Homo sapiens: one gene and its partner. The protein of the gene in region 1 interacts with the protein of each later gene in a pairwise test. Each region holds a gene or a part of one and is shown in the gene's direction. Other genes may lie near its edges.

Evidence for each region.
Region 2: the proteins of TRIM51 (region 1) and ANTXR1 interact in a two-hybrid assay, tested with the Homo sapiens proteins (one study listed by BioGRID).

The regions. Positions count from the first base shown.
Region 1 is NC_000011.10:55,878,789-55,886,418, forward strand, and holds the start of TRIM51 (tripartite motif-containing protein 51), read left to right. Parts: upstream 1-4,508; 5' UTR 4,509-4,596; intron 4,597-6,636; 5' UTR 6,637-6,640; coding exon 6,641-7,051; intron 7,052-7,334; coding exon 7,335-7,430; intron 7,431-7,630.
Region 2 is NC_000002.12:69,247,179-69,250,140, forward strand, and holds the end of ANTXR1 (anthrax toxin receptor 1 isoform 1 precursor), read left to right. Parts: 3' UTR 1-2,149; downstream 2,150-2,962. UniProt on the Homo sapiens protein: Plays a role in cell attachment and migration. Interacts with extracellular matrix proteins and with the actin cytoskeleton and thereby plays an important role in normal extracellular matrix (ECM) homeostasis.

The DNA.
Region 1 (7,630 bases):
ACACCAGAAAAGACAAGAACACTAAATAAATAAATAAACAAATAAATGAATAAATAAATAAACAAATAAATATATAAATAAATAGTGAAATAAAAAAATATTTATTCCTGATTTTGTTTTATTGCTTAAAAGCCTGCATAGGTGAAAGATAAAGTTTTGTTTTGTGGATGGTGAGAAAGTCACCAGAGGAAGCAGGAGAGAAGTGGGGGAAGTATTTTAGCAGTGAAAAAGTTGATGATTTGTTGTTCATACCTACATACATATCAGTTAACAGTCCTGAAAAATATGTTGAAGAAACTGTGTAGTGTTAGAACTGTATAAGTCTCTAGGGAAGTCTCTTGTTTCTAAAAGGCAGGTCTAGCTGCCTAGAACAAACTTCACATTCTTTATCTTGAAAAGGAAGCAGCAGATGCAGCAGTCTCCCCAGAACCCCGCTATTTCAGACAAAGATGTCAGGGGAGTCTGCCAAGAAGTGGAACTCAGAATTTCATTTCCAAATATTCTGAAGGCCATAAGGCTAAGGAACCTTACACATGTGGGGCAGAAAAAAAGAAAGATCAGACTGAATTCTGACTCAGACTCTCCCACTATGCTTTAAAATTTGGAAACTGTAAATAGAAATTAATTCCAAAAAGGAAGTAATAATTTTTGAATAATCCAATTTGTGGATTCAAAGGATTCTCATGAACTGGCTTTTAAATAGAAATAGTGATTTTTATTTATTTTATGGCTGTAGATGTTGTAACTGCAGGTTTTTCCTTCCAGGAGTGAGTCCGTGCTGCTGCACGTGTCCCAGCCTCTGAATCTAGAGCTCAGTGCAGGGCCCATCACTGGACTGAGGGACAGGCTCATCCAATTCTGAGGTAAGTCTCCACCCATAGACAGCACTTCCACTATCTAAATATTATTACTGTTAGGACCACATAGGTAATATTTCACCCTTTATCAGATATTTTACTTCCTTATAGACATAAGTGAACAACATAATCATGCAACCCTTTTGTATCTGTGTCTGTATAGTCAGATTTATAGCACTAAGTTTGAAAGATAGTGAAAAACAAATACATTTTGGCCTCATATATACTGAGTAATGTAATGGGAAAAACCAGTAGTGTAGCAAATTTTAAAAAGGAGCAAATGGAACAATGCTCAGAATGAAGGTGAGTTAGTTAATGTTAAATACAAAATTTTACATTTCCTTAGTGTATTCATTTGAACAGCTAAGAACTGTTCTTTTGGGGATTATGGTTTAATGGGGATTGCTGGGGTTTTTAAATTTTTTAAATGGATGTTTATCATGAATTGTAAAAAAAATTAGTTAATGGGTAAACATAAAAACAAGAAATCGTTTTGTGAATACAAGTAAAATTACAAACAAAAAGAAGTTCAGTTTAATTGCAATATGAAAAGCTACAGGTTAAGTTTAAAATCCAGCTTTTCAGCCCCAAGCTAGCATGGAGGACCACAGAGAGACTGGTAAAAGATTTTACAGAAATCTGCTTTAAATTGTCACTTATGACATGTACTTACGGATTTTTATCCAGTCATCAAGAGCAGTTCTTGAGTAACTGAAAATCTTCACATTCTTTCCAAAATGATAGCACTAGTTTTTAAGAATAAGAAACATTTCTAAATAATAATCTTGATAACAGCATACTATTTAGGGCATATAATGTGCAAATTTTGCTTTGAAAATTGGGTTGAAAGAAGTTGGTCCTTACATTTGGCTCTCAATATGTAAGTTTTCAAACCATTTTTAATACCTGTGGTTATTGTTTTGTTTGTCTTGTAGTTAAAATTAATCATCTCTATGCTTTATTAGAAGTTACAAGCAAAATTGTCCTTGTGACTTTACATTTCCTGGTAAATTAACTTCTTGATAGAACAATTTTTGCTTATTGACACATGTCTATGCATGTTTTGTTTCTTTCTCTTTTATTTATTTATTTATTTTTGCAGTGGATATTACTCTGAATCACGATGAGCCAACAGTCATATCTTTCGATGTGGAGATTTGAGAAGCATGTGTATTGGATGTGACCGTCCAAATCCGCCCCATATCACTGCAACACCTACAAGTTTTCTTGCATGGGGTGCTCAGACTTTCACCTCCGGCAAATATTACTGGGAGGTCCATGTGGGGGACTCTTGGAATTGGGCTTTTGGTGTCTGTAATAAGTACTGGAAAGGGAAGAATACGAATGACAATATATATGGAGAGGAGGGACTCCTTAGTCTTGGATGTGCCAAGAATGACATTCAGTGCAGTCTCTTTACCACCTCCCCACTTACACTGCAATATATCCCAAGACCTACCAGCCACATAGGATTATTCCTGGATTGTGAAGCTAGAACTGTGAGCTTCGTTGATGTTAATCAAAGCTGCCTTATATACACCATCCCTAATTGCTCCTTCTCACCTCCTCTCAGGCCTACCTTTCGGTGTATTCACCTCTGACCAGAGATAAATCAGAAATGTGTTCATCTGCTGTGAGAACCCCTTTATTCCAGGAAGCCCTCTTCCTTGTGCCTTATCAAACAGGACAAATAGGTTCTGTTTTATGTCTTGAATTGCCTCCTAATGTTATTAAAACTCATTTATTGTGTTACTATTAAAAATGGTAAAAACACTAAAAGTATATGTTTTGGTTCTTTATTAATTTTTGAAAAATCATCATTCATGATCATGGCATAAAATATATTCTGTTTTTTTTTCTTTATTTCTGACTGCCACTGAGTGAAATAATAGATGACAGACATGTCTGAATGGAGTTAAAATCAATGGAAGAGAGTCGGGATCTTTTGCTTCATGCAAAAGCTTGGAGTGAAGTCTTAATGATAGCTGGGAAATGTTTTTCTTTCTCTTTACCTAACTATATTGCACTTCTCCATCACATTTCATTTTACTAATCTATCCTTTGAGTTAATATTATTTGACCTTCCATGCTGGGCTTCATTTTGGAATTCTCACCACATAGATAAATAATCCTGCATTATTAGTGTGCTCTTCTACATTGAAATACACAAGGTGGTCAGAACAATGCTGGATTAATTGAATTTTAAAAAATAACTAAATATTGACTCCTACCTCAAAACACACACAGTCATTTCCAAATAGATTCCAGTTCTGAAGGTAAGGGGAACATGATACAATATTCTCATAAGGATTTCTTAACCAGGACAAAAATTAACAATTAAAAAAATTAGTAGGTTTATATTAATGAGGACTTCTGTGTTTCAAAAAACATGATACAAGAATTGAAATGCAAACAATTAGTGGAGAAAGATATTCACCTGAACATATATAAAATAAAATGCAATACATGTGCATGATGAATACTTAAAATGTATTTTAAGTATTTTTCCAGATTCTTCCAGAGTGGCACAGAATAAACTTGGATGGCAGAGTCAATGATGAGATTAGCTGTGGAAATGGGAAACCGTTTTTTGGAGGCAGTAGTAATGCTGCGAACTTATGAAAACAACCAAGTATTCAGTAGCAATTAAAATGTGTCTCCATAAGATTATTTTACAGATGCGTATCTGAAATCTGAAATTTGGGAGAACATTCTACTAATGTTCTCCAGTGAAAAAATACAGCTGGAAGAAAGAAGGGAGGGAAGATGAAGGAGAGAGAAATAGAATGCATTTGAGAGAAAATGCTATTTAGACTAAAATAGAATACTGCAGATACCATGACAAAGTGGTTAAGGTGTGTCTTATGGAGCAGAAATGGCAGCAAATACCACAGTAAAGAGATTTACCATTGGATTGTTAGTTCCGGCTTTTATTCTGTCAATGTTGTGGCTTCTAAACACATCAGTAATCTCCTTTGATCCATGTGCTAATTAACAACCAACACTCTGCCCCCTCTCCCAGATTCTTTCATCATTTTAAACCTAATCTAATTCTAATCCGGATGGTCACTGTAACACATGTAATCACCTAAGAATTTTAAAAATATTTTTGATGAATAAATGAAAAATTAGCTAGGTGCAATGGCATAAACCTCTAGTCTTTTTTACTTTGAAAGCTGAAGTGGGAGGATTACTTGAGCCCTGGAATTCAAGGCTGCGGTGAGCTAAGACTGTGCCACTGCACTCCAGAGGGTGAAACTTTCTTTGGTATAAATAAATAAATGTGCACTTAGAGGAATGCTTGTGCCTTGGGAAGAAACTCAAGAAACAGTTTAATCAACTTAGTTAATTTCTAGCATATGTTTACTCTGATAAGATTGATGATAGATATGCCTCATTCAGGCAGTGGTTTTTACAATGATAGTGTGATGCTAATTTAATCAGTGATGAAAAGGCGTGTACTAAATATTGCATAAACCTAATCATCTCTGTCTCCACCTTTCTTAATACCCTAAATATCACTAAATAGGTGGTTGTGGTCTTCAAAGATTCACCTAAATGGATGTAGAAGAGACAAGCTCATATTTCTCCAGAGGAGGACAGCACTTAGAGTTAACTGCATTCAAGTGATGACCTCTGAAAGTCAACTCTGCAGGGAATGAGCTCCTGATCTTGGGGAGTACTTAAAAGAATTTTTTCTTGGAAGAATTACTGCAGGAAACATTCATAGAACCTTGGGGTGAGTGCAACTTCTATGGAGAAAATTATTTCTCTCTTCCTTTAAAATAGTAAATTACAGTGATAAAAATATCTAACTGTCTAAACTTACCGAATGATCTTATTTGTAACTCATATTATTGCTATTCATTTTATGACATGAGGTTATGACATGAGGTTATTGTTGTCATTTTGTGTGTTCCAAAAGTGTTTGATATATTTTTGAAAAATTTTAGATATCTAGTGTTTGCTGCAATAGATTTGTATGCATCATGGGTATATGGAATTCATATTAAAACATATATATGTGTACTGCATGTACTAATATTGGTACACTTAATTAAGTAAAAAAGGATAATTATTGAATACTGTAAATGTTGTGCTTTCATAACCTTAAGCTTTTAGACATGATTTTAAGTTACTGAGGCAATGATGAGTTAAAAATGGTGATACTAAAGGAAATAAGAATGCTCTCCAAAATACCCTAGCTTAGAAATCAAAACACGATTGTTTAGCAGATAACTGTATAAGGAATGATTTGATACTTGATACTAGCTGTCATTTTAATTGAGGTTTACCTCAGATGAAACTGTGAAAAATTCCTTGAAATGGCTCAGATGGCCTCTGAAAAATATTTGCAATTCTTAAATTTTCACTCTTGGCACTTAAATTCAGCAGTGTTTAGTAAAAGAGAGTAAGGTAAAGGACTTCAAACTGCCAAGGCAAAGATTACAGTTTGTATTGGTCAGGGTTCTCCAGAGACACAGAACCATAGGATGTGTACATAACTATAACTATATATATATATATATATATATATACACATACCAAAAATACTTACAATTGTGGTACAATTGCCTATCGTATACCATACAGGTTTGTAGCCTAGGAACAATATGCTATACTGTATACCATAGGTGTGGTTTGTGTAAGTATACCCTATGATGTTCAAACAATAACGAGACTGTCTAACGCGTCCCTCAGATCATATATCTGTCCTCACTCTACACATGACACTGTACAGGAGAGGAAGTCCACTAGGGGAATTTGTTCCCTTGATTATGGAGTCTGAGAAGTTGAACATAGGCTGTCATTAAGGTAGTGTCCTGGAGATACCAATATCCTGGCTGAGTTAGAATCAGCTTCAGGAGAAAGAGAGGAAACTGCCTTGTCTCTGCCCTTTATCTTCAGTCTGAGCTACCAGCTGATTGGATAGTGTCCACCCACACTGAGGGCTGCTGTTGCCCACTCAGCTCACCAACTTACATGACTCTCCGGAAACACCTTCACAGACTCACCCAGAAATCATGCTTTACCAATTCTCCATGTATTATTTAATCCAGTCAAGTCAACACCTATAATTAACCATAATACCATAGTAATATAATGATATATATTTCAGTTTTTAAAAAACTGACTATATGTCAGTTCATAGTTTGAGTAGCCCAAAGAAGAAGTTAATTTAAGCCATAAGAAAAATAAACCCAACATTTTTCATTATTTATTTTATCTCCTAGTGATCCTAGACTGGTTTAATTGCTGTCTTTTTTTTTTTAATCTGGTCGGTTGGTTTGTTCTGGGGTTGTTTTTGTTTTAAAGAGCCGGCTTCTCGGTCCCTCTCTCTAAAAATATGTCATAGCAACCTCTGACCATCTTCTCATGTTTTGTTACCCAATGTAGGTTTTCTACTCCTCTCCCATAGTCATTCAGTTGTTATTTGAAAGAGAAATAGGGACAAGCATGTTTCATTCTAGACCACTTAAGATTAAAACCCGAGTTTCATGTCGACATCCAGGGAGTAGGTTTTTGAACAGATTTGCATTATGCTATGGGCAGGAACCAGGAGTAGAAGAGGTTGTGAGTCATCTAGTCAGCAGTGTCTGCTAAAAAGCCTAAAGACTCTCTTTGTGTTTGAATTTTTCATTTTTGTTACAGAGGAAATAGTTTGTTCCGCTTTAATGAGCACTGTCAAGAAGAAAATATAGCTATCACATATCACCACATGTTCACGGATTTTCACCAACCCAGACCCCAAAATGACATGCTGCTCTTTCTTCTTCAGAAACATGAATTCTGGAATCTTGCAAGTCTTCCAGAGGGCACTCACCTGTCCCATCTGCATGAACTACTTCCTAGACCCAGTCACCATAGACTGTGGGCACAGCTTTTGCCGGCCCTGTTTGTACCTCAACTGGCAAGACACGGCAGTTCTTGCTCAGTGCTCTGAATGCAAGAAGACAACGCGGCAGAGAAACCTCAACACTGACATTTGTTTGAAGAACATGGCTTTCATTGCCAGAAAAGCCAGCCTCCGGCAATTCCTTAGCTCTGAGGAGCAAATATGTGGGATGCACAGAGAGACAAAGAAGATGTTCTGTGAAGTGGACAAGAGCCTGCTCTGTTTGCCGTGCTCCAACTCTCAGGAGCACCGGAATCACATACACTGTCCCATTGAGTGGGCTGCTGAGGAACGCCGGGTAAGTGATGCCTCTGAAGATCTATTTCTATACAGGACACATGAAATTCTTGTAAGTCTATTTCCTTCGAGATTGGATGATGCCATCTCTGTGTCCCCTTAAGCATGTCTGTTATGAGCTTCCTTGACTTCACACCTCTCAGATTTGACAAACATGAGGAGAAACAAAGCAAACTCTCTTTTCTGTGGGTTAATTTGTCTCTCATTTTGGGTCCTTCGTATATCAGAGTGTGAATGATACTTTATTGTCCTCACTTGTGCTTCAATTCGTGGCTGTTTTGCAGGAGGAGCTCCTAAAAAAAATGCAGTCTTTATGGGAAAAAGCTTGTGAAAATCTCAGAAATCTGAACATGGAAACCACAAGAACCAGATGCTGGAAGGTTAGTACCGTATGACTCTACCTTCTCCGGGAACTTATAGTGAACAAATGGGTGACTCTTAAAATAGGAACTTGATCTCAACCCATAATGTTTCTGGAATTCAATAAACAAGGAAAAAACACTTGAGAAAAAAACACCCTAATTTTTTATATAAGTTAGTGTGACTCTTTGGTAGGATATCTAATCAGACCACAGATGTT
Region 2 (2,962 bases), on another chromosome or scaffold:
GCCGCCACTCAACAGTCAGATGAACCCAACAGTCAGATGAGAGAAATGAACCCTACTTGCTATCTCTATCTTAGAAAGCAAAAACAAACAGGAGTTTCCAGGGAGAATGGGAAAGCCAGGGGGCATAAAAGGTACAGTCAGGGGAAAATAGATCTAGGCAGAGTGCCTTAGTCAGGGACCACGGGCGCTGAATCTGCAGTGCCAACACCAAACTGACACATCTCCAGGTGTACCTCCAACCCTAGCCTTCTCCCACAGCTGCCTACAACAGAGTCTCCCAGCCTTCTCAGAGAGCTAAAACCAGAAATTTCCAGACTCATGAAAGCAACCCCCCAGCCTCTCCCCAACCCTGCCGCATTGTCTAATTTTTAGAACACTAGGCTTCTTCTTTCATGTAGTTCCTCATAAGCAGGGGCCAGAATATCTCAGCCACCTGCAGTGACATTGCTGGACCCCTGAAAACCATTCCATAGGAGAATGGGTTCCCCAGGCTCACAGTGTAGAGACATTGAGCCCATCACAACTGTTTTGACTGCTGGCAGTCTAAAACAGTCCACCCACCCCATGGCACTGCCGCGTGATTCCCGCGGCCATTCAGAAGTTCAAGCCGAGATGCTGACGTTGCTGAGCAACGAGATGGTGAGCATCAGTGCAAATGCACCATTCAGCACATCAGTCATATGCCCAGTGCAGTTACAAGATGTTGTTTCGGCAAAGCATTTTGATGGAATAGGGAACTGCAAATGTATGATGATTTTGAAAAGGCTCAGCAGGATTTGTTCTTAAACCGACTCAGTGTGTCATCCCCGGTTATTTAGAATTACAGTTAAGAAGGAGAAACTTCTATAAGACTGTATGAACAAGGTGATATCTTCATAGTGGGCTATTACAGGCAGGAAAATGTTTTAACTGGTTTACAAAATCCATCAATACTTGTGTCATTCCCTGTAAAAGGCAGGAGACATGTGATTATGATCAGGAAACTGCACAAAATTATTGTTTTCAGCCCCCGTGTTATTGTCCTTTTGAACTGTTTTTTTTTTTATTAAAGCCAAATTTGTGTTGTATATATTCGTATTCCATGTGTTAGATGGAAGCATTTCCTATCCAGTGTGAATAAAAAGAACAGTTGTAGTAAATTATTATAAAGCCGATGATATTTCATGGCAGGTTATTCTACCAAGCTGTGCTTGTTGGTTTTTCCCATGACTGTATTGCTTTTATAAATGTACAAATAGTTACTGAAATGACGAGACCCTTGTTTGCACAGCATTAATAAGAACCTTGATAAGAACCATATTCTGTTGACAGCCAGCTCACAGTTTCTTGCCTGAAGCTTGGTGCACCCTCCAGTGAGACACAAGATCTCTCTTTTACCAAAGTTGAGAACAGAGCTGGTGGATTAATTAATAGTCTTCGATATCTGGCCATGGGTAACCTCATTGTAACTATCATCAGAATGGGCAGAGATGATCTTGAAGTGTCACATACACTAAAGTCCAAACACTATGTCAGATGGGGGTAAAATCCATTAAAGAACAGGAAAAAATAATTATAAGATGATAAGCAAATGTTTCAGCCCAATGTCAACCCAGTTAAAAAAAAAATTAATGCTGTGTAAAATGGTTGAATTAGTTTGCAAACTATATAAAGACATATGCAGTAAAAAGTCTGTTAATGCACATCCTGTGGGAATGGAGTGTTCTAACCAATTGCCTTTTCTTGTTATCTGAGCTCTCCTATATTATCATACTCAGATAACCAAATTAAAAGAATTAGAATATGATTTTTAATACACTTAACATTAAACTCTTCTAACTTTCTTCTTTCTGTGATAATTCAGAAGATAGTTATGGATCTTCAATGCCTCTGAGTCATTGTTATAAAAAATCAGTTATCACTATACCATGCTATAGGAGACTGGGCAAAACCTGTACAATGACAACCCTGGAAGTTGCTTTTTTTAAAAAAATAATAAATTTCTTAAATCAACTCTTTTTTCTGGTTGTCTGTTTGTTATAAAGTGCAACGTATTCAAGTCCTCAATATCCTGATCATAATACCATGCTATAGGAGACTGGGCAAAACCTGTACAATGACAACCCTGGAAGTTGCTTTTTTAAAAAAAATAATAAATTTCTTAAATCAACTCTTTTTTCTGGTTATTTGTCTGTTTGTTATAAAGTGCGACGTATTCAAGTTCTCAATATCCTGATCATAATACAGTGGTTGCTGTGCTATACATTAAATTACATTTCTCAAATGATTTCATGCCTTCCACTAATTTCTCTACTGTCTGGATTACTGTCATTTCTTCCTTAGCTGTCAGACATTCAAAATATTTTTTATTTCTCATAACAAATTTCAAATTAAAAATGTAATCCATGCTAAGAGAAAATAAGTAAAAAGTGAAAACAGAACACACAGGAAAAATATACTGCATCAGTTAGGATTGTGTTTGGCTAACGTAGCAGAAAGGCAACTAGGATTGATTTTACAAGGAGTCCAGAGATTTGCAGCAACCCAAGAACCAGACAGTGTTGTGGACAGTGCTGCAATAAATACCTTTCTATGTACATCTCAAAATCTTTGTATTGCTTCTGCATTTCTGATACAACTCACTTTATCCCTCCTAGCAGTTTTAATTCAGCTCCTCCATTTATTTTGTAGGTAGAAGAGCATCTCCTTCTAGTTCCTGAATTTCTTTGTAAGATCTCATTGAGCCTTGAATACATCTTAATTGGAATAAAACCATCCACAAACAGAAAGTCATGCCACAAGTCTTTTCTAAGTTTTCATTAGTATTTGCTTTTTAATAGGTATGGGTATGAACACATTTTAAAATTATATCTTTAATAATTGTGTTTTGGGGGTTATTTTGAGACAGGATCTTACTCTGTCACCCAGGCTGGAGTGCAGTGATGCAATCATGGTTTACTGCAGCCTCAAACCCCTAGGCTCA